4 separate regions of the Homo sapiens genome follow, and regions 2, 3 and 4 are each reported to be linked to region 1. The links are microRNA targets in miRTarBase. Many come from high-throughput screens and were not tested one by one. Region 1 holds a microRNA gene; each other region holds the end of a gene's coding sequence.
What was found. The annotated mature microRNA hsa-miR-1303 reads UUUAGAGACGGGGUCUUGCUCU and lies in region 1 at 4,842-4,863, shown strand. An mRNA with a match to its seed (bases 2 to 7 or 8) in the 3' UTR can be bound and repressed. Matches are read on the target gene's strand: a 7mer-m8 pairs with bases 2 to 8, a 7mer-A1 pairs with bases 2 to 7 and ends in A, and an 8mer does both.

Region 2: the mRNA of USP54 is a reported target of hsa-miR-1303. Seed matches in the 3' UTR shown: 7mer-A1 at 5,661-5,667.
Region 3: the mRNA of CCN1 is a reported target of hsa-miR-1303. Seed matches in the 3' UTR shown: 7mer-A1 at 6,202-6,208.
Region 4: miRTarBase lists RBM18 as a target of hsa-miR-1303. Seed matches in the 3' UTR shown: 7mer-A1 at 1,960-1,966.

Annotation. Positions count from the first base shown.
Region 1 is chr5:154,680,986-154,689,062 of GRCh38, forward strand. It overlaps MIR1303 (microRNA 1303), which reads left to right and starts at 4,791; the gene lies at 4,791-4,876. It also overlaps a transcript of LARP1 not described here. RefSeq lists silencers at 1,564-1,763, 1,804-2,283.
Region 2 is chr10:73,492,501-73,500,577 of GRCh38, forward strand. USP54 (ubiquitin specific peptidase 54) reads right to left here. Exons shown (of 24, transcript NM_001391956.1): 24 at 5,038-6,688. The coding sequence ends at 6,129. PPP3CB (protein phosphatase 3 catalytic subunit beta) reads right to left here and starts at 3,524. Exons shown (of 14, transcript NM_021132.4): 1 at 3,305-3,524. The coding sequence starts at 3,389. It overlaps PPP3CB-AS1 (PPP3CB antisense RNA 1), which reads left to right and starts at 3,252. Exons shown (of 5, transcript NR_132104.1): 1 at 3,252-3,317; 2 at 3,642-3,983; 3 at 7,095-7,187. RefSeq lists enhancers at 2,591-3,050, 3,541-3,730 and a silencer at 3,111-3,460.
Region 3 is chr1:85,581,656-85,589,732 of GRCh38, reverse strand. CCN1 (cellular communication network factor 1) reads right to left here. Exons shown (of 5, transcript NM_001554.5): 3 at 7,449-7,805; 4 at 7,109-7,317; 5 at 5,783-6,993. The coding sequence ends at 6,691. Among named protein-coding and RNA genes, the nearest start is that of CCN1, 4.9 kb to the right of the region's middle. RefSeq lists an enhancer at 7,314-7,835.
Region 4 is chr9:122,235,753-122,243,829 of GRCh38, forward strand. RBM18 (RNA binding motif protein 18) reads right to left here. Exons shown (of 6, transcript NM_033117.4): 6 at 1,870-6,291. The coding sequence ends at 6,132. Among named protein-coding and RNA genes, the nearest start is that of LHX6, 11 kb to the left of the region's middle. RefSeq lists a silencer at 1,584-1,784.

The DNA of each region.
Region 1 (8,077 bases):
GCCTGTTAAGTGCTTTCTGCAGGCAGGCTCATAGTAATGCTCCACCATTGTTGCCATGTTCATTACCAAGGATGTGCACTCTGCAGAAGAGCACTGACCAGGTAGACCCAGAGAAGGGCCATGAGAGAAACTGATCCAACGCTTGAGAGGGCGGAAGATGCCAGAAGAGGCCGTGATTACCCATTCTGGCATTCAGCGCTTTCCCTGGTCTTGTTTCAGCCTACTTTGCTTGCCTGGCCTCCGGCTGCTCTGGGTGGTCTATTCAGTGGGCCAGCACACATGCAACTTCTTCCTGTGTCTACCGTCCCCACCTCACAAGAACCTCTTCCTCCAAGGAGCCGCCTTGACCAGCCCAACCCTTAAGAATCACATAGCCCTTATCACAAATGGATCGACAGGGTGGCTACAGAGATGCTAGACACAATCATATCCATAAAGACTCTGAAAAACAGACATACATTCTCAATTATACACACAGACACACACATGCAACCTCAAGATGCCCTGTAGCCCTGGTCACAGACTGATCACAAATGTATTACCATACACATGCACACACACAAATATCCAAGCATAACACGATCTCAGACAGGAGTCCCGTATACACATACACATTTATACAATACTGGCACACACAAAAAACCCCCACACATACCCCCCAAGGATATGCTGTCACATTCACAAACTCATAAATTCACATAAATATGCATATTTAAAACAAACTCAGGAAAGCCCATAGGTCTTATACAGTTAACACCTAGGCATATAAAGATACACACCTGTCCATATACACAGAAATGTATTCTTGGCACACGACCTCATATACAGCTATTAATGTGCTTACATACATAAGGCATACATATATACACATTATTCAATGACACATACACTCCTATATATTCACCCAAACACACATATGTAACAGACATACAAAAAGACATTTAAAAAAATTCCATTTGTCCTCTTCTATACACACAGATGTACTCCCATAGTACATTTTATTCATTCATCATTTATATTACAAAACATTGCTAAGGAAACTTCCTTGGTGTGACTTCCAAATTCAACCTTGTGTTATAGCTACTTGTGTAGACTAGCAAAAATGCATCGAGTAGGCTCATTTCTCCCTTTAAATTTCCACTTGCGGATACGCCTTGTGGATTTGCTTTCTCCCCTGCAAGCCCTCACCTCTCTCTGTCCCCCTTTTTTTTTTTGAGACAGGGTTGCCCAGGCTGGAATGCAGTGGCACGATCTTGCCTCACTGTAGCCTCCGCCTCCCAGGTTCAAGTGATTCTCCTGCCTCAGCCTCCCAAGTAGCTGGGACTTCAGGCGCGCGCCACCACGCCCAGCTAATTTTTGTATTTTTAGTAGAGACGGGGTTTCGCCATGTTGGCCAGGCTGGTCTTGAACTCCTGACCTCAGGTGATCCGGCCGCCTCGGCCTCCCAAAGTGCTGGGATTGCAGGCGTGAGCCACCGCGCCCGGCCCCTCTGTCCCTTTTTGACTGCCCAGTCCCCCAGGCCTCCGCTGGAAGGCGCTCACTAAAGGTTCAGAGTCCGAAGCCGCATTCCCGGGCACCCTCCCCGGCCCCTCCCATCCCACAGAGGCAGGGGTGGGTCCGTGGGTGTGGCAATGAACCACGTGTACCCACGGGACTCTCGAAGTGGGGGAGGGGAAGGGGCGCAGCACGCCACCCTCCTTTCTCCGCCCCTGCCCTACCCTCTCCGCTGTTCCCCCACTGTCCTCCCCCAGCCCAGCCCAACCTCAGCCGGCCGCGGGAGGAGGCGGGAGCTGGGGCTTCGAACTGCCCCCTCCCACCTCCGCCTCTCCCCCGTCTCCTCTCCCCCTTTCCTCTTTCTCCTCCCCCATCCCACTTCTCTCTCCTTTTCCTCTTTCTTTCTCCCCTCCTCCCTCCATTCCACCCGCCTCCTTTTACCCCGCCCTGCCAGTCGTCCTCCCCCTCGCCCCCTCCGCCTCCCTCCAGCTCCGCCGCCAGAGGCTGAGTCATCGCTGCTGCGGCGCTGCCGGCCGTGCTGGGAGAGCAGGCGAGCAGGTAGGGAGGGTGTGAAGCAAGCGACGCCGTGCGACCCGGCACCACCGTCTGGGCCCTTTCCCGGAGAGGCCTGGGGAGGGGGCACCGAAAGGGGCCCGGGCCGCGGTGGGGGACGGGCGACGGGCCCCGGAAAGGCACAGATCTTACCCCTCAACCCCCATCCTTACAGGAGCCGCTTTGCAGCATTCTCAGCCGCACATGCAAATTAATACCTAACATTAGGGTGGCATCTGGGCCAGGCAAGTCAAACTGACGGCCCACGGACAGATCTGGCCGGCACCTGATATTTATTTGGCTCACACAGTGTTGTGTTTGTTTGTTCTGAAGTTTTAACTATTAATAGTTGCCAATACTTAAACATCACTCATTTCTTGGAAAATCAGATTCCCAACTCAAAAAATTAGAATATATGTCAACGTATTTCCCATGATAACTCTAGCCTATTTCTGAGTGGGGATACCTTTGTGTAGTCAGGGCATTGCACCCTCCCTACCTGCTCGCCCTCTAGTTTGCCACAGTCTCCGCTACTCCCTACTGTTTCACCTAGGCCACTGAACTTCCTTTGTGTTTCCTGCCAGGCCTCATATGGAATGATTCCTAGTCTAGTCCACCCCATTCATATTTTACATGGGGATTAGGAAGTGAGGGTAGGGCATTTCCCAAAGTCACATGTGGCCTTAAAGCTGAAGGGGAACCCTGCTTTTCCTCACCCACTAATCTTTTCTACCAAACCATTCTGACTCCTTTGGTATGCAGGCTAACATAGGGAATTCTTTTGTGAAAAGTGTGTTCCAGAAAATTATCTGGGGATCAGAGTAGACCTCAAATGGGAGATGATTTGGAGCATACAGCACCTCGTCTTTGGAGTTGATGGTAGCTTCTCACAGTCTTTCCCTTGGAGTGGAAATAGATGACAAAACTAGGGTGGATAGATGAATGGAACAGTTGGCCAATCTGGTATATTTGGTTATAAGAAGTTGTTTTCGGGTCATTGGAAACCTGGCTTATGAGACACTGTTGCATAAGGGCTACAAAGGCAATATGCCACTTTGCTTGGATTATTCTCTAGTCTAGTGCTTCTCAGCTCCTAATGTGTACATGATTCCTGTAAAGTGTAGATTCTGACGTGGCACGATGGCTCACACCTGTAATCCCAGCACTTTGGGAGGCCAAGGCAGGATAATTGCTTGAGCCCAGGAAATTTGAGACCAGCCTGGGCAACATGGTGAGATCCCTATCTCTACAAAAAAATTAAAAATTAGTTGGGCGTGGTGGCCTGTGCCAGCTACTTGGGAGGCTTAGGCAGGAGGATCCCTTGAACTCAGGAGGTGGGGACTATAGTAAGCTGTGTTTGTGCCCCTATACTCTAGCCTGGGCAACACAGTGAGACCCTTTCACACACACACACAAAAAAATTGTAGATTCTGATTCAGTAGGGCTGGATGGAACGAACCCAAGATCCTGCATTTCTGACAAACTTCCAGGTGATGCCAGTGTTGCAGGCCCCTAGACCCTCCTGCCTTTGAGTAGCAAGGGTGTGCACTCCTTGCGCTTCCGGTCTATTCATGGGTACCATTGCTGCATGACGGCCAAGAGAAGGGGTTTGAAGTCCCACAGTGGACTTCACAGTGGATCCCAGCCTACCCCTTAACAGTCAGCTAACCTTAGGCCAGCTGCTCATCCTCTCTGTGCCTCCATTTTTTCATCTGTTCCATTGAAATCAAATAATACTTCCTTAGGAGCATAAAAAAGGCAGAATGAATGTATGACCCCAGCACAGTCTGTGCCTCATGGCAGGCCCTCTGTAAAGATAGTTTCTACCATTGTGCACTCTCTCATGGGCAGTGAAACCCAGAAATGACGTGGTTAGGGAGTGGGATATGGAAGGGATATGGAAGGTATTTCAGGATAAGAATTGTACCCCTTGGCTGGGCGCGGTGGCTCATGCCTGTAATCTCAGCACTTTGTGAGGTGGAGGTGGGCAGATCACAAGGTCAGCAGTTCGACACCAGCCTGACCAACATGGTGAAACTTCGTCTCTACTGAAAATACAGAAATTAGCTGGGCATGGTGACGCGCACCTGTAATCCCAGCTACTAAGGAGGCTGAGGCAGGAGAATCACTTGAACCCGGAGGGTGGAGGTTGCAGTGAGCTGAGATCGCGCCACTGCACTCCAGCCTGGGTGACAGAGTGAGACAACATCTCAGAAAAAAAAAAAAAAGAATTGCACTCCTTAATGTGGCCTTCTGAGCCATGCAGGGTGGTCACTGCCCAGCCTACCCCTTAATGCTCTCCTACCTCTGTCCATGCTTCCACCACAACGGCCACCTATTAGGTCCTTTGGCCATGGTACCTTCTCCCCTCAGAGGCCTTGCACATGCTGTTCCTCATATTCCAAGCTGGCTGGCCCCTTCTTATCCTTCAGTCTCAGCTCCTATGTTACTTCCTTGGGGTGCCTTCCCTGATCTCAGAAGTCTAAGGGTTTAGCGTAGAAAGTGGGGAGCAGGGAACATCTCTTTGGGCTGCATGTACATAGGGAAGTCACCGTATCTACTTAGATTCTAAGTTTATTTAAAGCAGCTTTGGATAGGGGTGAACTAAACGCTGCCTCTGCTAGTCTATACGATGCCTTTGTGCAGATTAGAAAAAGGGGTCGGGCACAGTGGCTCGCACCTGTAATTCCAACACTTTGGGAGGCCAAGTGGGAGAAACACTTGAGGCCGGGAGTTTGAGATCAGGCTGGGCAACATAGCGAGACCTCAACTCTACAATTTTTTTTTTTTTAAATTTTAGAGACGGGGTCTTGCTCTGTTGCCAGGCTTTGTGCAGCATGTAAACTGTACAGCCCTAAGTGGGAGCCCTACTGCTAATGCTTCCCCAAGCTACCTCGTGATTCGGTTAATCCTCCTTTGCCTGGATTAAGTCTCTTTTATAAACTTTCTTAACCCCATAAAACTCATCACAATTGGGATTAGGTATCTAGGGAGTTATTTATTTAAAATCTGCCCCCTACACTAGACTGTACTGCATCAAGGCAAAGACATATCCATCTTGTTCTAGGCTGTATCACTAGTGCTTAGTACGGTTCCTGCACCATAGCAGGTGCTCCACAAATGTTTTCTGGATATTTCAGGAGCTCATTCTGTACCAGGAAAGCTAAGACTCTTACTGAAACAACTGTGGGCATAGGATGAGACAGGCACAGAGCTAAATGTGTGGTGCAGCCCCAGTGAGGGAGATGTCACTTCTGGCTGCGGGGATGCTCCGGAAGAGGTGGTGTTTTGGCTGGGTCTGACGGAACAGATGGAGTTCATTAGACTTAGATGGGTGGGGGAGTGTTCTTGGCATTGGGAATAGCAAAAGCAAAGGTGCAGAGGGAAAAAAGTTCAATGTGTTCCTAAGACAAGTCACAAATTGTGATCAGCAGAGTGGCCAAATATGTTTTGTGAATTACCTGCCAATATTTATTTTAAAATCAGGAGATTTCACATAAAGATCCAGATTTTCCAATTCTCTTGAAAAATCGAAAGGTCCCACCAGGTAGCAATAGACTGGCACTGAGAAGTGGCCGTTCGTTTTGAAGGTGTGGGCTTACTCCAGTTTGCCACAGTCCTTACCTTTCCCAATTGCATCACACCCAGCTCTCTTCACTCATTACTGTCCCTTTCTGGCTTTGGAGATGGCCGACAGACTGTTTGATTGGCACACATGGGAGTTGTAAGGAAGATTGGTTCAGATCCTACAGACCCTTAAATGCCAGCTAATTAAGTAACCTGGTAACTGCAGGGATTGCAGGGGTCTTCTCCAGTCCCATGGATCACTGTCCAAGTATCCCTTGGCAGAGCCATGCCTGACTTCAGAAGAAGGAACTTCAGGCCAAGAAGGCTGGTGAAGTTCTGGAAACCAAGGAAGCAGAGAGCTCTGCATGAGCCTTTCCTAGAGAGAAATCAGTCTCTGTCTCTCTTAGACCGACCCCTCAGTCACAGCATGGTGCTGTGATTTTGCCAAGAGGCAGGGGTGGGTCTGGGGGAAGATGGACGGTGCTTCCAAAAGGCTAAATTTTAGTCTCAAAGGTTTCTGATTGCGGACACATAGGTGATATCTAACTTGCTTTTGTTTAGCCTTGAATATTTTCAAATATAATCTTCAATATTTCTGTTACAATATTGTAGCTTGCTTCTGTTTATAAAAATAATGCAGCATTTGAAAAAAAATTGGAGAACATAGAAAAATAAAGATGAAGATAATAATCTGTAGTAATCTTCCCACCCAGATGTAACATGTTAACATGTTGGTGGATTTCCTTATGTTTATTTTTTTCAGTGTATTTATACTTTTGTGTGTTGTGTGTGTGTGTTTGTGAGACGGAGTCTCACTCTGTCACCTAGGCCGGAGTGCAGTGGCGTGATCTCGGCTCACTGCAAGCTCCGCCTCCTGGGTTCACACCATTCTCCTGCCTCAGCCTCCCTAGTAGCTGGGACTACAGGCACCCACCACCACACTCGGCTAATTTTTTGTATTTTTAGTGGAGACGGGGTTTCACCGTGTTAGCCGGGATGATCTCAATCTCCTGAACTCGTGATCTGCCTGCATCGGCCTCCCAAAGTGCTGGGATTACAGGCGTGAGCCACTGCGCCCGGCCTGTATTTATATATAAGTTGGGAGGCTGGGCACTCATGCCAGAGCTTTGGAAGGCGAAGGTGGCAGGAAAGTTTGAGGCTAGGAGTTCAAGACCAGCCAGGATAACACGAGAGAACCTGTCTCAACAAAAAAAATTTTTTAATTAGTCGAGCTGCAGCCAGCTCTGCCTCTTGTCAGGGCCTGGAGTCCTGGGTGAATCCTGCAGGTTTTTGGTTGCACTGGCCCAGGGAAGAAGTTGGGGTTTGTCAGGTGGGCTCTCCTGGGGGTCCTCTAGTGGCAGAAGTGAGTAGGGGATTATCCGAGGCATCTGGAGATGCATGTCCCTCAGTTTCCCTGTGCCTCCCTTTCTGAGTAGGTGTACAAATGAGTGACCTAGGCCAAGAAGTGAGTTGCCACAGTGAAATGGGTTGGTTTTTGTCTTTGATGCTTCGGGTCTGGGCCCCTTGCATTTGCAGCCTGTTGTGACAGACACAGGGAGCTCTATGTGCCAGCCTGTGGCTGCCCTGATGTTGGGTGTCCTGGGGGTGGCGAGGCTCCTGCAGTCTCATCCGGGGAGGGGGTGTGCTGTGCTGAGCACTCTATCCCTGAATATAGTTTATTTTTTCTACATTTGAATTCTGTTATAGATTTATGTAAAAATACATTCTCTTTTTGAAGAATGAAAAAGTTCACATCTTAAAAAAAAAATTAGCTGGGCAGGCCAGGCGAGGTGGGTCAAGCCTGCACTTGGGGAGGCTGAGTGGGCAGATCACGTGAGGCCAAGAGTTTGAAACCAGTCTGGCCAACATGGTGAAACCCTGTCTCTTTCTGGCTAAAAATACAAAAATTATCCAGGTGTGGTGGTGGATGCCGGTCATCCTAGCTACTTGGGAGGCTGAGGAGGAGAATCACTTGAACCCAGGAGGCAGAGGTTGCAGTGAGCCAAGATCACACCCCTGCACTCCAGCCTGGGCGGCAGAGGAAGACTCCATCTCAAAAAAAAAAAAAAAAAAAAAAATTAGCTAGGGCTAGTGGCACATGCCTGTAGTCCTAGCTACTTGGAAGGCTGAGGTAGGAGGATCTCTTGAGTCTGGAAGGTTGAGGCTGCAGTGAGCCATGAATGCATCACTTCATTCCAGCCTGGGTGACAGAATGAGACCCTGGTTCAAAAGTGAAATAAAACAACATTGGAAGCATATTTCTTTTGCCCTTGATTTGCCCTTTTTCACTTAACATTATATGGTGAATCTTTGTGAGAATGTATTAATGCATTCCTTTTATAAAATTTTTACATAAAAAATTAAATTCAGAAAAGAAAAATACTATATATTGACACCATTTTTCCAAGTTATTAAATATGTTTTGAGAAAACATTTTGCGCCGGGCGCAGTGGCTCACATCTGT
Region 2 (8,077 bases), not on the chromosome of region 1:
TACCTATACCAGCTTTGCTGATGTGGTAAGAAAGCACACATGCAGATACGGTTAGATATTTTTCCTAATTTTTTTCCACTTTCTTATTTCCTACATAGCTAAAGAATGCTTAATAGAATATAATTAAAAGGGTATATACCATCTTGCTTAATCAGGTGGGTTAGATCAACTTTCAAACAGGGGAAGAATTTGACTTGAGCCAGCAGCTGGAGTAGGCTCAGAACTGAATTTAATCAACCAAAAACCTAATGACCCATAATCAATGACATGGAATTACCACTAATAATTTTAGTGACAAGCTCATCACATTTACTCATGAATCACCTACAGTATTCCAAGCTCCCAAACTTCACAAAAAGTGAATTTCAGGTATCTGATCTTAAACACAGAAAGACCTATACACCCTTAAAAACCTACATGACCATAAAATGTAGGCCTTATGACTACAAGCATGGAGTATAAAATTTTGACACTAAGAAGTTCCAGGGAGGCAGGCCGGGCGCGGTGGCTCACGCCTGTAATCCCAACACTTTGGGAGGCCACGGTGGGAGGATCATGAGGTCAGGAGTTTGAGACCAGCCTGGCCAACATGGTGAAACCCCGTCTCTGCTAAAAAATACAAAAAATTAACCGGGCATGGTGGCGCGCACCTATAATCCCAGCTACTCGGGAGGCTGAGGCAGGAGAATCGCTTGAACCCAGGAGGCAGAGGTTGCAGTGAGTAGAGATCGCGCCACTGCACTCCACTTGGGCAACAAGAGTGAAACTCCGTCTCAAAAAAAAAAAAAAAATTCCAGGGAGAAAAAGACTACTTGCATTCAATGCCAACAGACAGTCTCCATAATATCACTACTATGAAAATGTATCGATACAAAACTACCACCACATTGTGGACTTAAAAGAAATTTGGATTTTAACAAGTTAAACTTAAGCTGAACTCACATCATTTATCATCAGGCAACCAGTATTCTCTAATATCAGGTATCACATTATAGTATAATTACTGAATAAAAGACAAGGAAGAATCCTGAAGATGAAATTTAAAAGTGAATTTCTGGATCTGTAAGAAAGGTGAATTTCCCAGTAAATGCAGGAGACTCCATGAGCAGTGCAAATTAGTCTGTTACACACCATTTTAAAACATATAATCCATACAGGAATTCCAACTGGTTAACAAATTCCATAAAGAAATGAAAGTTGTCTCTATGAAGAGGGCACAATGAAGCACCAGAAATATGATAACCATAAGCTTTATTTAACTATAATTTTCTATATTAACAAGCTCCTTTCCTATTTATCTAAATCAAATGGCTTTTATTCCACACCAATAACCTGCAAATATGACTGCCTTGGACTCACAACTCACCCCTAAGGAATCTGCCTTATGTTTGGAATCTTATTTTCACTGCATTAAAGCAGTACAGAAAAAACATTACCATATATATGACAAGGAATAAGAAGATTCACAAACGTAAGGATAGCATAAACTCATTGTTCAGGAATGTGATTGGTTACCCCATCTAACAGTCTGGTGAAAAGTGCCCAGGGAAATGAACACACAACACAGAAATACAGTCAGAAAATGAAGAGGTAGCCAATGTCCCGTTCCCACCCCCACAAAACTCCAGGATTTCTTGATAGAATGAATGTCTGCATTACTATTTTTTTTTTAAGATTTCTCTGTATTAAGGATTCCATAAACTCGTTATTCAGCTCATTCCAATGCCTGGCCCAACTGGATATACTACTAACTTAAGCCTAGGTGCAAATCAGTGTTTTGTTTTTGTTTTTGTTTTTGTTTTTGGAGACAGGGTCTGGCTCTGTCGTCCAGGTTGGAGCACACTGGCGCAAATCTCGGCTCACTGCAACTTCTGCCTCTCGGGCTCCAGTGATTCTCGTGCCTCAGCCTCCCGATCCGCTGGGACTACAGGGGCGCGCCACCATGCCCGGCTAATTTTTATTTTTTGTATTTTTGGTAGAGAAAAGGTTTCGCCATGTTGCCCAGGCTGGTCTCCAACTCCTGAGTTCAAGCGATCCGCCTGCCTCAGCATCCGAAAGTGCTGGGATTACAGATGTGAGCCACCACGCCAGGCCAAATTAGTATTATTCTTTTAAGAACCGAAGAAGGCTCAGGTTGAAAATTTTTAATTAAAAAAAAAAAAGAAAAAAGGTTTCCTTGTTTTTAAATATTTTAATGGAAACATATGAGTCAGATTTCAAAAAGTAGGCTAACGGTGTTTAAATACTGTGCCAGTGTATTTGAGAAGCTGAATGAAAACAAAAGTACCTATATTTTAAAAATAAATACAATACAAATAAGGAAAAGTTCATTCTACGATTTCAATTTATCAATCAAGCTACATGGTAAAGAGAATCATTTCAATTGTTTTTCACCTCCACAGCAGTGTTTGAGGTTGGTAGGCTCTCCCAGGAAGCTTGGAATCTTAAGCAACTCTCAATTAGCCCTCAATTTCTCTATTTTAAATTAATCTGCTGACCTGTTGTGGGTAAACATCCATAAATTCTGCCCTGGCTGAGAAACATTTAACTTTTTCGTCTAGGATGAATGTGTGGGTGTGTGTTTGTAAGGGAGGGGTAACTCCTTTTGACCAAAGTGTTGATGGTTTTCTAAGTAAATACTTGCTATCCACAAGAATTTTTTTTTTCGTTTATGCTGCTTTTTCTCCCTTTCTGCACTATAAAGGCTGGCCTTCCAATTCCTGCCCCGACCCTTCACCGTGATCCAATCCCACAAGGTTCCCCTAATTTCTGCTCCGGGTGGCACCTGACGGCCAAAAGTGAACCCCTGCGGTTGTCGCCAGCTAGACGCGGATAGGGCGGACGACTGTCACCGGGGAGCAGGCGTGGGCCAAAGCCGAGGTGATTTCTGACTGCTCACTGGCGGGCCTCGCGTGGCTGAAGGTCTCCGAGCCCCTCGGTTCGCCCCGGCAAGCCAGAAGTGCAGCTGTCGCGGGGCAGGAAGCTAATCGCGGCCCCTGCGCCGCTTTGACAGGCCGAGTGAAGAGAAAACGGGCTCACTGCAGCTAACAGCCTCACCCCTTGGGCTAGGAAGCCACGGAAGCAAAACCTCCGCCCCGGCCTGAAAGCAACCGGGAGACCGCGGAACCACTGCCACCGACTCAGCCCTGCCCAGCAGGGGCCCGCCCAGGGGCCACTCCCCAAGGGAGGCAGCCAGTCACTCGCCCGCCCTTCCGGGCCCACTCCCGAGGGGACGGTCTCCCGCCCGCCCTCACACACAGCTAGCTCTTCAGGCCAGGCCCCCAGGGTTTCGTCCACCTCTCACCTTTGACGACGCGGTCAGCCCCGGGAGGGGGCGGCGGGGGCGGGGGTGGGGGCGGTGCAGCCCGGGCCGGCTCCGGGGCGGCCATGCTGGGCCCGGGGCTCGGCTAGGCTCTGGGCCGGGCGGGGTTGGGGGCGGGGGCGGCGGCTACCAGAGCCAAGCGGCGGCGCCGCCGGGGAACATGGCGGACCCTCTTTCCCTACAGAGGGGCTAAGACCGGCATGCACTGCGCGTGCGGGGGTGGGGGCGGGGTAGGCTCTAGGGACTTGGGCAAAATTACTGAAGCTAGGAGAGAAACAGGACGAGGCCAAGGGATCAGGTTAAAATTCTTTGCATGCAGAATGAAGAATGAGGAGGTGCTGCGATCGAACGACTGCGAGGAAACACACCCGCTCTCATGGCATTCCCAGTAAACTGAGAAGACGTGATTAAACCTCAGGATCTCCTACTAATAGAGAAATGTATAACGATTTAGCTACCAGATCTGAATACTGAAGGGTTGGTAGGGGACCAGAGAATAGAGGAAGCATTGTAGGTTCTAGAGTGGAGAAGGGACCATCCAAAATGGAGTTTGAAAGAGAATTCTGGCCTTTGTGTTTAGAGTCTGGAATTGTCAAGAGTCTGAAAGCACAGAATAAGACTGCAGCTAGAGCAATTTAGGCGCCATAGTTTGTCAAAACAGGTAAGGGGAATAAAGGGGATGACACCAAGAGATGTGCAAAGAATCTGAAGAATTCACCTGAAAAGGATACAACCTCCTCCTGGAAGGCAGAGGAGTAAATAGGGAATTGGAAATTAATTCCTTATTTCTGCACATGCACAGAATCTGGGCCCAGGTGACTTATGGAACCTTTATAGAGACCACGGTGACTGACACTCATGGGAAAGGGGGTAGAGGGGCAAGAACTGACTGTTCATCAAAAATTATTAGATGAGTGTGTCCACGACACCAGGAGATATGTTGAATCATGGACAGGGACCAGCATATCCACTAAGCTCTATATATCTTGATGGTGCAGGATCCAAGTGGGATGGAACAACCAATTCCTGCCCATCCTCCTGCTCAATAATACATGTGCTCAGAATCTGTTCATAATGCATGGTGGTAAGTAAGTAGTAGTCCGAAGGTCCAAGGAGTACCTTTCTACCTCTTCTTTGTGTCAATTTCTATCCTGAGACCCCAGGAAAAGAGGAAGGGAAAGACCCAACAATGGATTTTTTCCAAAAAGGGAACCCACAAGCTATTTTTTAGAGGGAAGAGTCTCGGGAGTGAGGCACAGGTGAAAATGGATCTTTCTGGCATGGAAGGGCCATAACACCACAGGGGAAGGGAAAGGGAGAGGCCCCCACGGAAGGAGAGGAAGGAAGGGACAGGAGGCACGTCACAAACTTATAAGATAGAGGGAAGGCACCTGGAGTACATTGATCAGGAGTGAGTCTGTAAGAAGAGCTTGAATCCCCAGAAAATCTTCCTAAGGAGGGGAGGAAGGAAGTGTATAATGTACTGAGTACTGAATGCTCTGTCAGGAAAGGGATGGGAAACATCCTAGCAGCAATACTAGAAAGGAAAGGCACCCTATTTTAGGACCCATTGATTCCCACCTTGATTGTATATCCTTCAACTCGTCTCTGGCTCCTCACTTCCACTCAGTCAAAAGCCACTTCATATATTTATCCAGACTTCCAGCCCCAATACAAAGAAAGCAAGAGCATACAAAGGGAAGAATGACAAGGAATTAAATAGAACTGTCTTATAGATTTATTAATGAAAAATACTTTACAAAAACAGTATGTTTGGCCTAAAATAGTTCAGCTGACTCTGAGGGTTTACATTGACGACTGAGCAAGTGGCAATAATGGCTGTGTTATTGAGGACAGAAGGCTGTGTTAGTGTGCCTGACTCCATCTGTTCAAAAGGGTGAATGTTATGTTGGCAGCTCCGCATTCTAGGCCTAAGGTTTGGAGGGCACAGGGAATGCTGACAGGCCATAATACCTGGGCAGGGGGGCTGCCCTGATGATGTCATCAGAACCATGACCACAGGGCTACATGTCCCCCCAAGGATGGGAGACAGGGAAGACAAAGGGTCAGGTAATAGGGATAGGTGGATAAAACAAAGAGTAGAAGTTGGGAGTATAGTAGGGAACAGAGGATGAGGGCTCAGGTGGAGGTGGGGACATAAAGCATCCAGGAATAAAATGTGACCTTAAAATCCTAAGGAATGGCTAGTATCCAGAGTAATACCATGGATTCATCTTTAAAGTGGCTCAGATAAAACCCTTAAACAGCAGCTGCTTCCTTTTGCTAGGGGGAATGGAAGTTGGAATTTCAAATATCCCCTCCCAAAGAATCACATCTTTTTAGAGGTTCCTGACACCCTTAGGAGAACCCACCAATTCTATGTTGAGATGAGAATAGCACAACCATGGCAGTGATGCAGGGTACCAACGCTGCCACAGTAGTTTATTTTGTTGTTGTTTTGTTTTGTTTTTTGAGATGGAGTCTCACTCTATTGCCAAGCTGGAGTGCAGTGGTGCGATCTCGGCTCACTGCAACCTCTGCCTCCCGGGTTCAAGCAATTCTCCTGCCTCAGCCTTCCGAGTAGTTGGGACTACAGGCACGCACCGTCACGCCTGGCTAATTTTTTGTATTTTGGTAGAGACGGGGTTTCACCATGTTGGCCAGGATGGTCTCAATCTCCTGACCTCGTGATCCACCCGCCTCAGCCTCCCAAAGTGCTGGGATTACAGGTGTGAGCCACCGCGCCCGGCCCACAGTACAGTTTTACAAAGAAAGGTGTAGCTCCAGGAAAGGAAAGGAATAACCTTTACCATTGACTGTGCTGCAGGACTCTAGCCCTGATCTGCTCTCTTCTGGGAGCATCTGATAGAACAAACAGAAACCCCTCTCCCACTGTTCTCCTGTGTCCAGAGTGGGAGGCATAACTGCTTTGCCTCCAGTCATCATCTGGGGGCATATCTACTCTTCGAGGACCAGGGGTTCGGGACCCTGGAACAGGATCTGAATTCCAAGCTGACCTCAGGGGTACATGAAGACTGCTAGATGGTGGGTACACAGGATGAACAATGGGAGGGTGGGAGGGTGAATGGAAAAGATCACTCCAGGACTGAGTGTGAGGAACCTGAAGGCCCTTGCTTCTTTCTGGTAGTGTGGCAGTGTAGGTTAGTTGAGGATTGCACCCTGGAGTAGTCAGGAATCTGGTCCCAATATGCTGGTTGGTCTCTGACCAGGGTGCCCAGGAGTTGTCTGTTCTGGAGCGATGGGGGAGGCTCTGGTAGTTCAAAGTCCTTCCTGTGTACTTGGCCCCTTGGGAAGTTTCACCCCTGTCACACATAGCCAGAAACTGCTGGACACTCCTTGAAGTTCCTGGGGAAAGAAAAGAAACCCAAAGACTGAGCATCTTCAGAAAACCATTCTCCTTCCCAGAGAGCCATGCCTAGCTGTGTAGCCCAATTCCCTACTCCTCCAAGAGCATACATACAAGGGAAAGAATGAATCAAGCTGTGCTTTTGATTCCATTTCTTAAAATTCTTAATATACATCAAAATCAAATCTCATACCTCCAACCTGGGCAAATGAAACAGTCTCATGGATGTTGCCATACCTCTACCTCCCTCCACTATAATCTCTCATCCACTATACACACACCTACAAAAGAAGGGCTCCCTAATATATAGCAATATATGGCAAACGTATACTCCCTTTGTGATGACTATACTCCTAGAGCCACCATACCAAAACCTCACGCAGCTTTTCTTTTTAAAAAAAATAGAGACGGGATCTCACTGTGTTGCCCAGGCTGGTCTCGAACTGCTGGACTCAAGTCATCCTCCCATCTTGGCCTCCCAAAGTGCTGGAATTACAGGTGTGAGACGCTGTGCCTTGCTTTTTTTTTGTTTCTCCAACTTTTCTTAAAATGTTACCTTCACTTCAGTTAAGCTGCCTTTGTTTGATCTCTGAGATCTAATGTGGAATGCCTTTTCTTATACATTTATTCAACTTTGGCACTCTTGGTATCTTGGGCTGATAATTCTTTGTTGGGGTTGGGGAGAGACTGCCCTGTGCATTGTGTGATTTATTAATGAAAAATACTTTGCAAAAACAGTATGTTTGGCCTAAAATAGTTCAGCTGACTCTGAGGGTTTACAACAACAACTGAGCAAGTGACAATAATGGCTGTGCTGTTGAGGACATCCCTGGCCTCTACCCACTAGATACCGGTGGTACATCCCCTTTATCCATTGAGAACCACTGCCTCAAGCTTGTACATCCAGTGCATGAGGGGAAAAAAGAGAACATCTCACTCGGAAGGTCAAAGAAAGCCAAAATGATATTGCCCACCTTCCCCACAATTGTCTGGGTCTGTACACATGGTGTGGGTACTCCATGTAAAGGGTCTTTCCAATTCTCCCACTCATTCCTTATCTTCCTAGACCATCCCTCAGCTGAGACTCAGAGGATAGAAGGGGAGAAAACTAGCTCAGAGGATAGAAGGAGAGATGACCATTTCTGTTCTGGGGATGTCCCAAAGACTGGGTATTAACTCCCCTTTGTCAGTTAAAAGCTTATTCTGTCATGACTGAAGCAGGTCATTTTCGTAAGTAGACAGACTCTAGGGGTGCTGGTCTAAACCCTTGGTCTAAGAATCATGGTGCCCAACAAATGATTTAATATTTATCTAGATAAATGCACGACTTTGAAGCAGTAATTCATATCTTCACACCACTCCACCTTGGGATACCCCCCTCCCCATAG
Region 3 (8,077 bases), not on the chromosome of region 1:
AGTCTGTGCTTGTTTGCACCTATCCTTCTTGGGAAGGCTTTCCAGGTATTCAAAAGGACTTGGGTGTTGTGATCTAAGCCATATCTGTATTAGGGGGCACCCCAACCCCAAGAATGCTGTGGTTCTTGCAGGCTCATAGAGGTACCACCTTGTTGGTCTTGGATAAGATCCAGATAATTCTCTGGGTTACTAGGCAGAGACTTTTGTTATCTTCCCTTACTTTCTCCCAAACAAATGGAGTCTCTCTCTGTGTGTGCTGAGCCACCTGGGGCTTGGGGGGTAGGGTGACACAAACACCCCTGCAGCCACCACCTCTGGAGCTGTGCCAGGTCAGACTTGAAGACAACACAGCACTGGGTCTCACCCAAGGCCCCCTGTAACCACTACCTAGTACCATCTGTGTTGAGTCAAAGCCCTAGGGCTCTACAATCAGCAGGTGGTAAAGCAGCCAGGTTTGTGTCCTTCCCTTCAGGGCAGCAAGTTCCCCCAGGCCCTGGGAAGGTCCAGAGATGCCATCCAGGATCCAGGGACTCGAGTCAACAACCTTAGAAGTCTATCTGGTGCTTTACACTACAGTGCCTAAGCTAGCACTCAAACCATGAGACACAGTCCTTCCCACTCTTCCATCCCCTTTTCAGAGGAAGAGGAGCCTCACCCTGTAGCCACCACCACCACGGACCCAAGAGGAGTATTGCCAAGCTACCACTGATATTCTTCTCAGGCCTAAGGGCTCTTCAGTCAGCTAGTGGTGAATGGTGCCAGGCCTGGGATTCACCTTTCAGGCCAGTGGGCTCTTCTCTGGCCCAGGGCAGGTCCAGAAGTGCCATTCAAGACCCAAGGCCTGGAATTGGGGCCCCAAGACCCCTCTTGGTATTATACTCCACTGTGGCTGAGCTGGTACCTGTGATGCAATACAAGGTCCCCTTTGCTTTTTCATCTGTTTTTCTCAAGCAGAAGGAGTCTCTCATCATAGTCACAATAGCTGGAAATGTGCTGAGTCTTACCTGAAGTCATCACATCTCAAAGTCTCACCCAAGGCCCACAGCATTCTATCTGGGTATCACTGCTGGTTATTCAGGGCCCGGGGGCTCTTTAGTCAGCAGGTAACAGTTCTTGCCAGCTCCGAGTCCTTATCTTGAAGGTAGCAGGTTCCCTTCTGGCCCAACATGTGTCTAGAAATGTGGTTGGCAAGCTAGAACTTGGAATAGGGGCCTCACAACTGTGACCTGTGCCCTATCCCACTGTGGCTGAGCTGGTATCCAAGATGCAAGACAAAGTCCTCCTTATTCTTCCCTCTCTTCTCCTCAAGTGGGAGGTAGGGGTCTCTTTTGGAGCCGCAAGCTGTGCTGCCTGGGTTTGGGGGAAGGGTGATGCAAGCTCTCCCTTAGCTGCCCCAACTGGTATCTCAGTAAGTCACATGCCCTTAAAATCCACCTGCTCTGAGCCCAGCTCAGTGCCAGGACTTGCAGTCCTTACAGCCGAGACTGCCTTTTAAGTTTATTTACGTCCCCAAGGCACTTCAGCCCATGGTGGTAAGGCTTGCCAGAACTCCAGCTCTTACCACTGGGATGGGTGATTCTCCTCTGGCTAGGACAGGTCTGAATGCTACCTCCATAGGTGGGCATCTCTGCTGTGACAGGGCAGCACTGCGTTCCAGGCAGTCTCCTAGTTGCTGTAGTCTCCCTCTCCCAAGAGCACAGATTCTCTGCACCATGTGGCTGCTGCCAGAGAATGGGGGAGGGGTGGTGGCAGTGATTCAAGACTGTCTTTCCTACACTCTTCAGTGCCTCTTTCAACGATATGAAGTTAGAAACTGGTTGTGAGTGCTCATCTGAATTCTGGTTCTTGTAAAGGTTCTTTTTTGTGTAGGTAGTTGTTAAATTTGGTGTTCCTGCAGTGGGGATGATTGTTGGGGATTTTTATTCCACCTTTTTGCTCTGCCCCTTAAAAAACTTCTTGGTGTAAGGAACTATTAATAATTTAGACTGGGTGGTGAAGAAAGGTTGCTAAGAAGGTAGCATTTGTGCTGAGACCTACATGCCAAGAAGAAGCCTAGGTCAGGGGAAGGGGCATTTGAGGCAGAGGAACGCTAGTGCAAAGGCCCTGCAGGGGAAATTGCTTGGCTTTTTCAAAGAAGAAGAAAAGGCAAGTGGAAGTATAGTGAATGAGGGTGAATGGTAAGAAGTAGGCAGGGTCCAGGACCTGGGTGCCAAGTAAGAAGCTAAATCTCTACTTTGACAGCAGTGGGACACCATTGGAGCCTTTAACCCAAGGGTCCATATAGTCCGATTTACATTTTTAAAGAGTCAGTTTAAAAATGTAAAAGGGGAAGAATGGAAACCAATGATATTTTGGTTATCTATTGCTATGTAACAAACAAACCCAAAACTTATTTCTTTATAATTACCGTATTGGTTTGCCCACTATTTCGTGGGTCAGGAACTATGGGAAGGACTCAGCTGGGCAGCTCATCTCTGATTCACAAGACATCAGCTGGGGTGGCTGAGGCTGGAGGATTCACTTCCAAGATGGTTTCTTCATGGACAGGTGTAATGCCCAAGTGCTCCTGGTCCTTTCTCTTTCTCCACATGGCAACTCATTCTCTAAGGCCTATCCATGTGGCTTCAGCTTCTCACAGTCTGCTGGTCTCAGAGTAGTTGTACTTCTTACATGGAAGCTCATTTCTAAGAGAAAAGATGGAGGAACTCCTAGCCAGTACTGCATGTGGAACTTGTACCACATTGCATTGCTTCCTCCACATTCACAGGTCAAGAGCTCACCCACATCCAAGAGGGTGGAGAAATAGACCCCCCCATTAATGGGGGAGCAACAGAGGCACATTGCAGAAGGGCACATGGAGTGGGAGATATTGCTGCAGCCACCTTTGGAAAATACAATATGCTATAAATGAGGAGGCCATTCTGGTAATTCAGACAAGGGATGATGGTGGTCTCATCTAGAGGTTTGCTCTGGAGATGAGAAAGGGGTAGATTCAGAATATATGAACAGAATATATGGAAACAGCAAAGCAGTAACAAATGCATCTGAGTATTTATTAATTGTAGTTTATAAGATTACATGGATGAATATTGCCCACCACCAATGGAGAAAGTCACAGCTATATCTAATCTATTTGTAGGACAAATGGATCATTGTCATGTTTCAGAATATGCTTTGTTTTAAAGCATCAGTTGTGTAGGGCAAGGAGTTAATGAGGCCTGGATAGGGCTATACAGTGAGGTTAAAGTATGGACCTGTAGACTCTGAGATCCAGGAATTGCTGTGTCCTCTAACCAAGGGTGCTTTAGAAAGTAAAGGGGGGGGAAGGGGTCTAGCCACAATACATTTTCAAACGCTTCATGGAAACAAGTGCATTTGATGACAGAAAGCCTTGAGCAGTTTTCAGTTCACACATGTGGTTACTTGAGGAGATAAAAGTTTTAAGGTATGAGAGCCAATGTACCGAAGTGGGTGTATGAGAAAGGGTTTTTGGGGTGACAAAAATGCTGAAAGCTATTTTCCTACTTTAACATGAGGGAGTGAAACAGAAACTTGCCCAGAGTCACCTAGTGAATTCATGGCAGAGCTGGTGCTAAAAGACATGATTCCATGGGATTCTTTCCACTGTATCACCTGCCATTCTGCCCAGAGCATAGCTTTGCTCTGTACTGTGGTCATACTGAACCACTGCTATTGCTCAACTGACTTTCAAGTAGTGCCAGAAGGCTGCAAGAAGAGGTTGTGAACAAACCAAGTCTGTTCCCTCTGTTGGAAAACATAACTCTAAAATATGCTTTGCTAATTTTGACTCAGTTGCATCTCTTTGTGGAGCAGACAACACATATGTTCATATGAAAAAATAGTCATAGTGAGACTACTTGCTGTGCTGCTCAATGTCCCATAGAGTATTTCTTAAAATTCGTGGAATGCCTAAGATTCTGAGATCACTCTCTCAGTTCTAAAATCTCTACCAAAAAATAGCTCAAGACCACCAGGATCTTTTGGATTGAAAAGCAAGAACAACCCAAGGTCTTTACTGTGCATGGGAAGGTACATATATATTATAATGAATATTTCTATATGTAACTTCTATTTCATATATGCAGATGCATAATTTTTGGTTTGTTTTCTCAATATTTAAAGTGGGCAGAGCTCCATTCTGGATGTAGGTAAAACTTACGTGTTCTAAATATCATAATTTTATTCTCCACTACTTTTAATTTCTTCAGGTTTTTCTATAGCTAAACAAAAGACATAATTTGCTTGTATTCATCTTCTTTATTAATTGAACACACTTATTGTAAATGGAATTGGCACTTTCAATCACCCTCATTATATTTACTAGGATGAAATTAATAACCCAAAGATTCAGTGTTTTCCCATACTAGGTTCTGTTTCACATTTGAGCTTATTTGGACAAATACTACTTCCCTGCACACTGAAAGGATCTGTAAAATATTGCTCCTTGATCTCTGCATAAGAAGCAATTTGTTGGACTCCAGTGTTGGAGAGCAATACTTCAGGGTTGATGCTTGGGAATGTGTAAATCTTGCCTATGGATTTAGATGTCTGTTCAACAAGATTGCACCACAAAAGCCTCACACCTTTATTATGTTTCACACGTTACATTGCACTGACAAGTTTAACTGCATCCACGACTGGGCCAGCTGATGTTTAAATTCTCAAATACCTTAACATTTGAATGTCTCAGGCAAGAAACCTGACTATTCAGAAGGCACAAGCTGTAATATTTCAGGCAAGTCAAAATCAGAAGTGAAGGCTTTTGGCCATAGATTTTACTAGTGCATTTATATTAACCTCTATGCATTTCCATAAGGCTTTAAAACCATTTCTTAGGCAGTATTTTTCTGTGGGTCTTCATTAAAGTATGGATCTTATTTAATCTACTTGGAAAAATCCCTTCAGGATCCCAGGAGCTGTCCTCCTCCATTCCTTTTAAAAGCACTTTCTCTTCTGCCTAAAAACTCAAGTACTCTCTTAACTAAGTGCGGACTGAAATATTTCACTATGGATTTGAACAGGAGCCAACAGTGATGATGAAAGGAAAACTTCTCCCTATAAAAGGTTTATTGTCAGCGCTTTCTAAAGATGAAGATGCTTCTGAAACAGACTACTGACATTTTCACAAACATTGACACAGCCTTCTCAACCTCTCCTAGACCTATGATTTGGGTCCCTTTCTTTTAGGAATGCTCTGGACCTTTGACCTTCTGAATAGCCAACTCTATATAACTGCTCCCTCCCCCATCAATATAACGTATATTATAAAAAGGAAAGGGGGATGGGGTAGCTTGGCCCTCACGCTATTGGAAAAGTAGTTGAAATTCCTTGCATTCCTTTGCATTTAACAGCATGTTTACCTAATCACCGGCTTATTAGGATTAACACAAGTCATGCTTCAAGCTCATTTAGTGAAAACAAACTGACTCCTATAGACTCAGATTTTTCCTCATAACAGCCAAGGGTAAATTTCTAAGTAGTTCTAATTTTTAGGAACGGTATTGGGAAAATATAAAGTTATAAACAAGCAAGTCTTTAGAATACATTAATTATATTCAATCTTGCCCATGGGTCTGGATGTGGGCAGCCTGAGTTATGGACTACCCCTTTTCATTAAAGGGTTTCTCTACTCTACTAAAGTGGCATGCCCACTAACCTGGTGATTAAAATAATAAATTATTATAGCCATCTCACAGAGTGATGGAGACCCTTAGGCTTTATATTCTGATGAACATGAAGCGCTGTTTTCTTAAATCACAAATTTAGCTTCAGAATCTTTATTGTGCTTCATACAATGTCGTGTTCAATACATGTTTTTTAAACATTACTTTATATGCAAAGACTTTTCTCTACTGAAGGTATAAAAGCAATCATTATCTTATTTTAATAGCTTAATTCACTGCTGTATCCCAATAAGTCCTGTTTGAATAATTGAGTACGTGAGCTAGGTTGTTCCTAATGACTTTGGAGCACCTCTAAAAATACCGAATGGCATACACTCAGATATTAGGTAAATATTTCTTTATTAAATGGTTAATTCCATAAATAAAATCTTTTCACTGAATATAAAATTAAAATCATTTACAAATTATTCCAGTATTACATTTCCCCTCCCTCCCCAAAAGCTACATTTTGATAAATAAAACATTCAGTCTTAAAACACCTGATTTCTGTTTGCAGTTTAGAGTGCAGATAGCTGCCTCTCACAGACACTCATGGAGTGTCCCCCTTCAGGAAGGGATGGAATGCCCTCCCATTTACTTTTGTCAAAGGACGAATAAAAGCTTTAAACTGTCCAACTAATCTTATTATCTCTTTTACGACTGTAGAACCCCAAAAGGAAAAAAGCCTAGAGAAAATATGCTTAGCAAATAATTTACAAACAGAAAACAGAAAGTCATCAACTCCACAAGCTCCAAAATGAAGCAGTAACATGTGCTCCAATACTATGAAGCAAAGTATTCTCCAATCGTGGCTGCATTAGTGTCCATCCGCACCAGCACCCTTGGCAGTTTCGAAATACCTTAATGCTCCTCAAGAATGAGCAAGGCTTCCTTTCTACAATGAGTCCCATCACCCACACCACCCCCGCCCATTTTCTCCATGATTCTGATTCTGACACTCTTCTCCCTTGTTTGTCTAGGTGTGCCCTGGAAACCCAGGTAGCATTTAGTCCCTAAATTTGTGAATGTCATTGAACAGCCTGTAGAAGGGAAACGCTGCTTCATTGGCATGCGGGCAGTTGTAGTTGCATTTGCAGGACTGGATCATCATGACGTTCTTGGAAAATGTCTCCCCATCTTCGCAGCGGAACCGCATCTTCACAGTCCTGGTCAGCTGGGGCGTGCAGCATCGGCCGTCCACGCAGGAACCGCAGTACTTGGGCCGGTATTTCTTCACACTCAAACATCCAGCGTAAGTAAACCTGACTGGTTCGGGGGATTTCTTGGTCTTGCTGCATTTCTTGCCCTTCTGTAAGAGAAAGGAGAGAAGGAAAGTTAGGGGTGATATTTCTCTTTCTTCAAAAAGATGTTCACATCCCACCCACCTGCCAGGCAACAGTCTACACGTCCCTGAAGGAACTTACTTTCAGGCTGCTGTACACTGGCTGTCCACAAGGCCGCACCTCACAAATCCGGGTTTCTTTCACAAGGCGGCACTCAGGGTTGTCATTGGTAACTCGTGTGGAGATACCAGTTCCACAGGTCTTTGAGCACTGGGACCATGAAGTTGTTTGAACAATACATTTCTGGCCTTGTAAAGGGTTGTATAGGATGCGAGGCTCCATTCCAAAAACTAGAGACATATAAGAGGGAAGACTTCTCAGAGGCATACCGACACAAACAGGCTCAAGCACTCATTTCTACAAAGATTTAGACCAGAAATGCATCTCAGTACAGTGTCTGAAGTGCTCAGTCTCCACTTACCAGGGAGCCGCTTCAGTGAGCTGCCTTTTCCAACTGCAATCAATTCATTGTTTCTCGTCAACTCCACCTCGGAGGCATCGAATCCCAGCTCCTTGCCAAGGAGGCCGTCCTGGTCCTCCATGGGGTCCTTGATACTATCCTCGTCACAGACCCACTCCTCGCAGCACTGCCCGGTAACTTTGACCAGCCGAGGGTTGGGACAGCCCAAGTTGGGGAGAGATAGTTCTTGGGGACACAGAGGAATGCAGCCCACGGCGCCATCAATACATGTGCACTGATGTTTACAGTTGGGCTGGAAACTTTCCCCGTTTTGGTAGATTCTGGAGTTATATTCACAGGGTCTGCCCTCTGACTGAGCTGCAAAGATCACCAAAAGAGAAAGGTAGAAGGGGATAAAGTTAAGATTCCAAACCACCGCCTGAAACTCATACATATTTTCTGCTGTTAAATTCAATTTATGGTAAAGTTCCCTACAATTCCCCGGAGACTCCAGACCAGAACAATAAGTTAGTCAGGAATCACTTTTCCGTATGCGCTTTCGTTGGGCCCAGACACACTGAATTGCATTCCAGACTGCTGAAATCATGTGCCTTTCTGCCAAGCTACCAACAACAAAGCATCACCATACA
Region 4 (8,077 bases), not on the chromosome of region 1:
GATCTGCCTGCCTTGGCCAAAGTGCTGGGATTACAGGCGTGAGCCACCACGTCTAACCAACTTTACATATTAAGGTTATATATAGAATCATATATATGTAGTATATATGGTATAAATACATACAAATGTATCATATATGATATCATCAGCTATATAACATTTAGGAGACTGGATATAGGGAGTGGGGGAGTGGAAAATGTTCAAGATAACTCTCAGGTTTCTAATAGTTTATTTTATTTTTCCCAGTGACACAGAACATGGGAGCAATTGAGGAAGGGCAAGAGGGATCCATGAGCTCGGTTTTGAGTCAATGTACCAAGGGAATATTCAAGTGGAAGTGCCCAGGAGTGAACGGGACATATGGCTCTGCAGCTCAGAAGAGAGCCTGGATCTAAGAGAAGGAATTTCAGAGATATCAGGGTAGGGATAGCAGCGGAAGCCTTGGAAGTGGAGATTTTACAGCAGCTGGAATTTACCCCATCTATGAGAAGAGAGTTGGCTTGTTTGCTTTCTGGGAGGTAATTTGCCCCTGAAACTCATCTTACTTTTGGTGAGAATCGTTTTTTAAATTATAAAGCACATTATATGTAGTGATAAGTGCTAAAACAGACCCAGGTCGTTAAGACGCAGAAAGGCAATTAACTGCCTTATAGGAATGAGCATGGGTGGGAAAATATCTGTTAGACAAGTGGTGGGGGTGGGCAGAAGGGACTTCCCAGGTAGAAGGCACATCTTGTACAAGGACAGGGGAATCCAGGAGAGTCCATCATGTTTAGGGTGCACAAATAGTTTAGTCTGGTTAGGAGAATGCCTAGTGGGACTGATTTGTAGAAGGCCTCATAAACCTGGCTTATCCTATGGTTCTAGGTATTTGGAAGTATCTTAACTCCTTACTTAGATTAAATCTTAATATCTCTCACTTTGGGGCTTTGTTCTTTGTTCAACGTCCCCCTTAAACCGTTTACGCAGCTTATTAAACATCGTTTGGCCGCTCAGCTCGGGGGGAAATCACCTATGTCACCATGTCCCATTCCCAGCCTGGTTCCCATCCTCTGGTGTCTTGAAGCTGCTGAGTCGTCCCTTTATCACGGTACATCACAGTGCACAGGGCTCCTGCCTCATCATCTTTACACCCTCCACGCATCACACATGGCAAATGCCATCTGTTTCAGGAATGAGTAACCTTCCTTCTGATGAGGTCGCCCACCAGAAAGCTTCTCAAATGGGATAGGCCTGTTTTCAGAAGAGGAACACATAACTTGTTTTTTAAGGTGAAAATTTAAAATTATGCTTCTAGTTTAGAAAAGTCACAGGGCATGTAAAAATTAAATGTCATTCAGCATAATCAGTAATCTTAGCCAAGTTTAAGATTGAATGCAGAGGAAAGAAGACACAGACCTGCGTACTCGGATAAATTCTGACAGATCTGTTTTTTTTGGGTTTTTGTTTTTTTCTTTTTAACCTGGGATTCAAGAGGTCTCTCCAGAGACCACAAGGAAGAGCCTGCTTGAGAATGAAACCAACCCAGAGGAAAACACAATCAAGAGATAGACAGAATCCTAACCATTTCACTGAACACCTGGACTTCTCAGTTACATGAACCAATACATGTTCTACCGCAAGGGAGTTGGAGTAGTGTTTTTGTCACTTGAGCTGGGAGTCCTGACAAATCTGCTTACATAGCTGGGGCTACAAGTCTAAATCTGAAGCCCAAGTTCTTACGGCCTTAGTTTCCTCACAGGGACAATGAGAGGATTTAGCCCACATTGATAGCCTTAAGCAGTACAGTGATGCCACTAGGGCTGGCACAGCCAGTTCTCTATCCCAAAAGATGTGTAAGGGGTCAGAGACATTGACTAAGAAACAATATTCGGTGCACATCATTCTGACATCTGTTGCTTTTATTCTCTGCATTAATACGAGAATTTTAGAAAACACATTTCCAGTCATGGAATATTGTTTAGAGTAGGGTTTGGCAAATTTTTCCTGTAAAGGGACCGATAGTATATATTTCAGGTTTTGTAGGCCACAGTCTTCATTGCCAACTATTCAACTCTTCTATTATATGGGGAAAACAGCCACATGTAAATGCCTGGGCATGGTTGTGTTCTAATAGTTATTAACATACACTGAGATTTGAATTTCGTATCATTTTCATGTCACAATATAGTATATATATTTTGTTTACTTTTTTTCTCAACCACTCGAAAATGAAAAAAAAATCATTCTTAACTTGTAGGCTATACAAAATTAGGAGGCAGAGGCCAGTTTGCTGAACACTGGACTAGATGTTTGCAGGCCTGGGTTCTACCTAAAGCTCTCCCATTAACCAGGTGACCCTGGCCAAATCGCTTTGTCTCTCTGGGTTCCCGTTTTCCCCATCTGGACAATGAGGGGGCTATATGAGATGGTCTCTTAAGGCCCTTTGGCTCTCAAATACCAGAATTCTTGTAGTTTATCCAACAAATATTTATTGAGTATGTATGATGTACAGCCATTGTTTTAAATGCTGAGGGTATAGCAGTGATATACAGTTCCTGCTTACATGAAACTTACATTCCAATAAAAAGAGACAAAAAAAAATTTAGATATAATGTTGGTTAGCGGTAAGTGCTTTTGAGAAAATCGTGAGGAAAGGATTGGAGAGTGACAGGTTGTAATTTTAAGAGGGAGGCCGGGGACTGCCTCTTGATCATTAACATTTGAGCAGAGACATGAGTCAGGTGAGAGAGCGGGCTCTGCGGCTATCTGGAGAAAGAGCGTTCTAAGCTAAGGCAACAGCCAATGTAAATGCCTTGAAGTAGAAGCTCCCTTGTATTCAAAGAATAGCAAGAAGGCCAACGTGGCTGCAGTACACCGCACAAGGGGAGAACAGTAGGCTATAGGGTCAGACACGTAGTGAAGGACAGGTCATTAGGGCCTTACAGATCTTTCAATTTTTTCTAGGCTGTGATGGAAAGCCACAAAGAAGAGAATCACATTTTAAAATAATTTTTTTAAAAATTGCTTTGGCTACTGTGTGGAAAACGGACCCTAAAGAATCAATAGCAGAGGCAGGGAGATAATTAGGAAGGTATTGTAATAGTCCAGGGAAGAGATGATGGTGGCTTTAAGAAAAATGGTGGTAGTGTTGGAGGTGGTGAGATGGCTGGATTCAAGAGGCATTTGGAAGGTAGAGTTGACAGGATTTGTTGAAGAACTAGATAGGAGCTGGAGAGAAAAAGAGAAAACAGGGATAAGCATGCTGGGACTAAATCATATTTTAGGAACAAATGATTACATATAGGAAATGTTTGACATTTAATTTATAAGGCAAGAATTACTCCTGTTCTTTTATGTAGTAGTATAAAAGAATCACAGATATATTTGTTGATTCAGAAACTGTGCATATCTTAATAAACAAGAGACAGAGCTGCAGAATACCTGGTTTCATACAACTTGTGCAACTGATTTTTGACCTGTTTTGTTTTTGTTTTTTTTGAGACGGTGTCTCACTCTGTTGCCCAGGCTGGAGTGCAGTGGCACAATCTCGGCTCACTGGAACCTCTACCTCCTGGGTTCAAGCGATTCTTGTGCCTCAGCTGACATGCTTTGAAAAATCTTTCCTCATGTGATACTCCTCCCCAGTACTAAGATACCAATTATAGAAAATCAACTGGTTAGGATTACATTTTGCATTTGATAAAATAGGAATTGAGATGAAGAAAATAGTTCATACGTCTCTCCTCAGTATTTCCTTCAATTCTTCACTCTTGTATATAAATCAAAATTATAAGTGACATAATTTTAGCAAACCAAAATAACCAGTAAACCAAAGAATAATTTTACTTAAAGTACAGACAACCTCCTAACAAAGAGTTGACCAAGTTAACACCTGAAATTTAAAAACCTTTCATCAGACTGCTTTCAGCATATTTAGGATACATACATTTCTTCTTTTGAAATCTCTACCACGAGAGACTAAACACAGTACGATACTTGCAGAGATTTCCATTAACAACTTCTTTTCAAATAGTGACATTTGCAATGGAAACAGCTGGTCTCTATTCTCATCTCTAACAACAGAGGTAGGCAGGCATAAAGGGTAAAGAGAGTTGCCTCTCAGTTTGACTCTCTAGCCAGAACCCTCTGCAGAGAAGGCACTTAGAAGAAGCACCCCACGTGGACATGCTGGCCAGAGTCCTGAGTGGAAACAAGCCTGTCAGAGAACTGCAGTCTATGCCAGTAAGTGAACGAGAGAAGATATAACCACACGGACACCGTCTTACATTTATTCACACAGAGGGATAAGAATCAGTACAAATAATAAACAGTGCTTTAAATACAAATAAATAGCTCTGGTTTCTAAAGGAAACAACTCTATATATAATTCTAAGTTTTTTCTAAGTTCCTATTAAAAATAGAAGACTATTTTGCACTATGTAAGTTCTAGTCCACCATAATCCTTTGAAGACTTACGGATAAAATGGTGAATTCTATACTCCAAGAAGTCACCAGAAAAATGGGAGATAATGCTCCTACCTCTCTGAACTATCCCCCAAATAGGAGGAGAGTTACTTGCATCATAGACAGACACAGCTAATACATACAGAAAGTATTTGATGTCTAGAGATATTTAAAAAGATTAACCTTGGGAAAAGTAAAAAGAATTTCCTTAAACCAGTTTTATGAATTCTAAAACCTCCCTCTACTGAAGTTTTGATTCAAATGTCTTAAATTCATTTATACTCATGGGAAGATGTTAAGTTCCTATATTGAAAGCTTCCTCTTGCTAACAACGATAGTGATAAACATTCTGTCATCACCAAGAATGGCACCTGGAGTAACAAAGTGATACATACCTGGTAAAGGAGCAAAGGTGCTGCCCAATTAAACAGTATGTCAAACTTGGCATCAAAATGACCAAAATGTGCTGAAGAAACACATCCCTAAATCTGTTGGTTGACTTATCTTTCTCTATTGTTATATTCAGGATGCTTAGAGTGACAAACATATCTAGAGGCAAGTATGTTCTCCAAGTGAAGAATCATTTCCAAGGCATGCAGTCCTTTAAAACTACCTACCACACAGAGTCATTACAGTCTTGGTGCCACAGTGGCATCTGTTCCATTGACTTTCTGTGCCCACTGCATGTCCTCTCCTCGTCCTGCACAAGATAATGCAATCTCTTCCACTTAGACCGCTACACAATTATTAGAAAATTGTATGTTTGATAGTGACCAATATAGCAATGTTTAGGTTTTCAAAGAAATTTTGCTTTTTCTATTTAGACTGACCATGATATAATTCCAAACAGAACATTCTCATGCTATAAAAACAATCCCATGCAATAAATGTAATTTTAAAAGTCCCATGATAATAGCAACATTTGTTATTATAGAAGGCATGGTTATTTAGATTTGAAAAAAATGGTTGCTATAGAATAAAAGTTCAATTTCCAAATAGAACTTGTGTTGTGGTATAAAATGTTAAATTTGATTCTAGTTTTGTCAACACAAACAATTTTAAGATATACACCATGTTTTCCTAGTTGGGATTTTGAAACAATAAGCATAATTCTTAAACAGATTACTACAACATTTGTTCAAAGAATCAGCTCCTTTTTGCCAAGAACTTTCTCTTTTTCAGTCCAGTTGGAGGGATTGCCGTAGTAAATTCTGGAACAACAGTTCTGAACATGATTTAAAATCTGTCTCTCACTTCCCTCCCTGCCTTTTACTTTTTCTTTATGTTGTAAAAGACACACGAGCGTAGAAAAATGCTCAATTTTTTAATAGATGTTAATATTTTTAGTTTCCTGATTTAAATAATATTTTGTGTATTTGCCTTTTGCTCTGGCACACTATAGAATGTTTCTGGAGTTACAAATCCAAACCAACCAGCCAATTAGAGCATCCCAGGGTTCAAATCACAATTTGGGATACAACGCTATTTATTCTGGATGATGCTCAATTCCATACATAGTTTAGGGAAGAAACATCCATAAGAACATCCAAAAACATTATGTTACCAAATGCTAACATGTGATTGTGCTCCGTTGAATAGTACCATTCACATCTACAAAGTACACAGGCAGACGATTTTAGGTGTGGAGACCAATTTGCTTTTGCTGCTACAGTAATTCACAACCATCATCTTCGAGATTTCCATGCTGTTCTAGAATATGGAGTAGTCCTTTTTTTATCTGGTGGCTTAAAGTAGGAATAAACAGGCGCTGCTGGATACTCTGCATCAGGATTTTCCGCCATCATTTTCAGTTTTGCTTCAATGGCTTTTATCTTTGCAGTGACACTGGAAAAATAATAGCAGAGGATCAGAGTGGGCCTAGGTATATTCAGAAAATAGCTGTACAGTTCCTCTCCTTGAGCCTCTTGGGAATATTAGAGACGCAACAAGATACTAAATTACAGACATTTAAACATTTTATATAAAAGCCAGAAATAACTAATTCTCTCATTCTAAGAAACAGATCAAGTCTGAGCCATCTATTAAGTTTTTAACATAAGCCTGGACATTGTTGGGAGTACTTCATATAGTTCTACATTTAATCCTCAGACGCAGACACTGTTAGCACCTTAATGCTTGGCAGAGAGTAGGTACTAAAAATAATTCTTTTAGAATTGAAAACAACATTATAAGATAGGTTATATTCCTTATTTTGCAGATGATGTAACTGAGGCACAGAAAGGTTCATTTGCCCAATGTTACACAGCAAGTAAACGATAGAGCAGAGATTTGAATACAAACTGACTCAAAAGCCCAGGTTTCACCTGAATCACTGAATAAAAATGGAAAAAAAACATTCTGGAAATCCTATACAATCTCTTTTTACTGATGAATGCATGTTAATAAAAACTATCATTTACAAAGTGCTTACAATGAGCCAGGCACAGTGCATTTTACTTATACTGTTTTTTTTTTTTTAGACAGGGTCTTGTTCTGCCACCAAGGCTGTAATACAGTGGTGCCATCATAGCTTACTAAAACCTTGAACTCCTGAGCTCAAGCAACCCTACTGCCTCAGCCTCGTGAGTAGGTAGGGCTACAGGCACACACCACCACATCCATCTGAATTTGTTTTTGTTTTTGTTTTGAGATGGAGTCTCGCTGTGTCGTCAGGCTGGAGTGCAGTGGTGTGATTTCGGCTCACTGCAACCTCCGCCTCCCAGGTTCAAGCAATTCTCTTGCCTCAGCCTCCCAAGTAGCCGGGATTACAGGTAGCAAGCGCCACCACGCCCAGCTAATTTTTGTACTTTTAGTAGAGACAGGGTTTCACCATTTTGGCCAGAATGGTCTCAATCTCTTGACCTCGTGATCCGTCCGCCTTGACCTCCCAAAGTGCTGGGATTACAGGCGTGAGCTACCGCGCCCAGCCCCATCTGATTTTTTTAACTTTTTTTGTAGAGATGGAGTCTCACTATGTTGTCCAGGCTGGTCTTGAACTCCTGGCTTCAAGTAATCCTCCTGCCTCAGCCTCCCTAAATGCTGGGATTACAGGCATGAGCCACTGCACTCGACCTACTTATAATGTTTTTAATCCTTGCAATGGCTCTACATGGGTTATCATGCATGTTTTATAGATACAGAAACAAATGCAGAGGTGGTGATATGATCAAGGTTCACACAGTTAACAAACTGTAGTGAGGATTCAACTCATCACCAAAGCCCTCATTTTTTCTTCTCCATCAAGTTAAGAGCTGAATAGTCCTATATTGTACAGGAAGGGAGAGGAGATCTTAGAGAAGTTGCGAGGAATTTGCTTTTGATTGAGATCATTGCTATCCCTGGATCAGAATGCAGAGCACTCAGGGAGTAGGTATTTTTTGGCCTATGGCTACCTTCATTTTCCATTCTTGATGCGTTAATGGTCTATGGCCAGTGAGAGAAACTTGGAAGGAGTATATACATGGGCTTTTGGAGATCCTCGAAAGGTATACATGGGCGAGAAATTTAAAAACTAAGTTACAAGAAAAAGAACACTGATATATTACCGAGATGCATTCTGGCCCCTCTTCCATTAATGCCACAGCTGGTCACTGATTTTGTATAAGTCACAGGGAAGCAACCTTCTCTCATT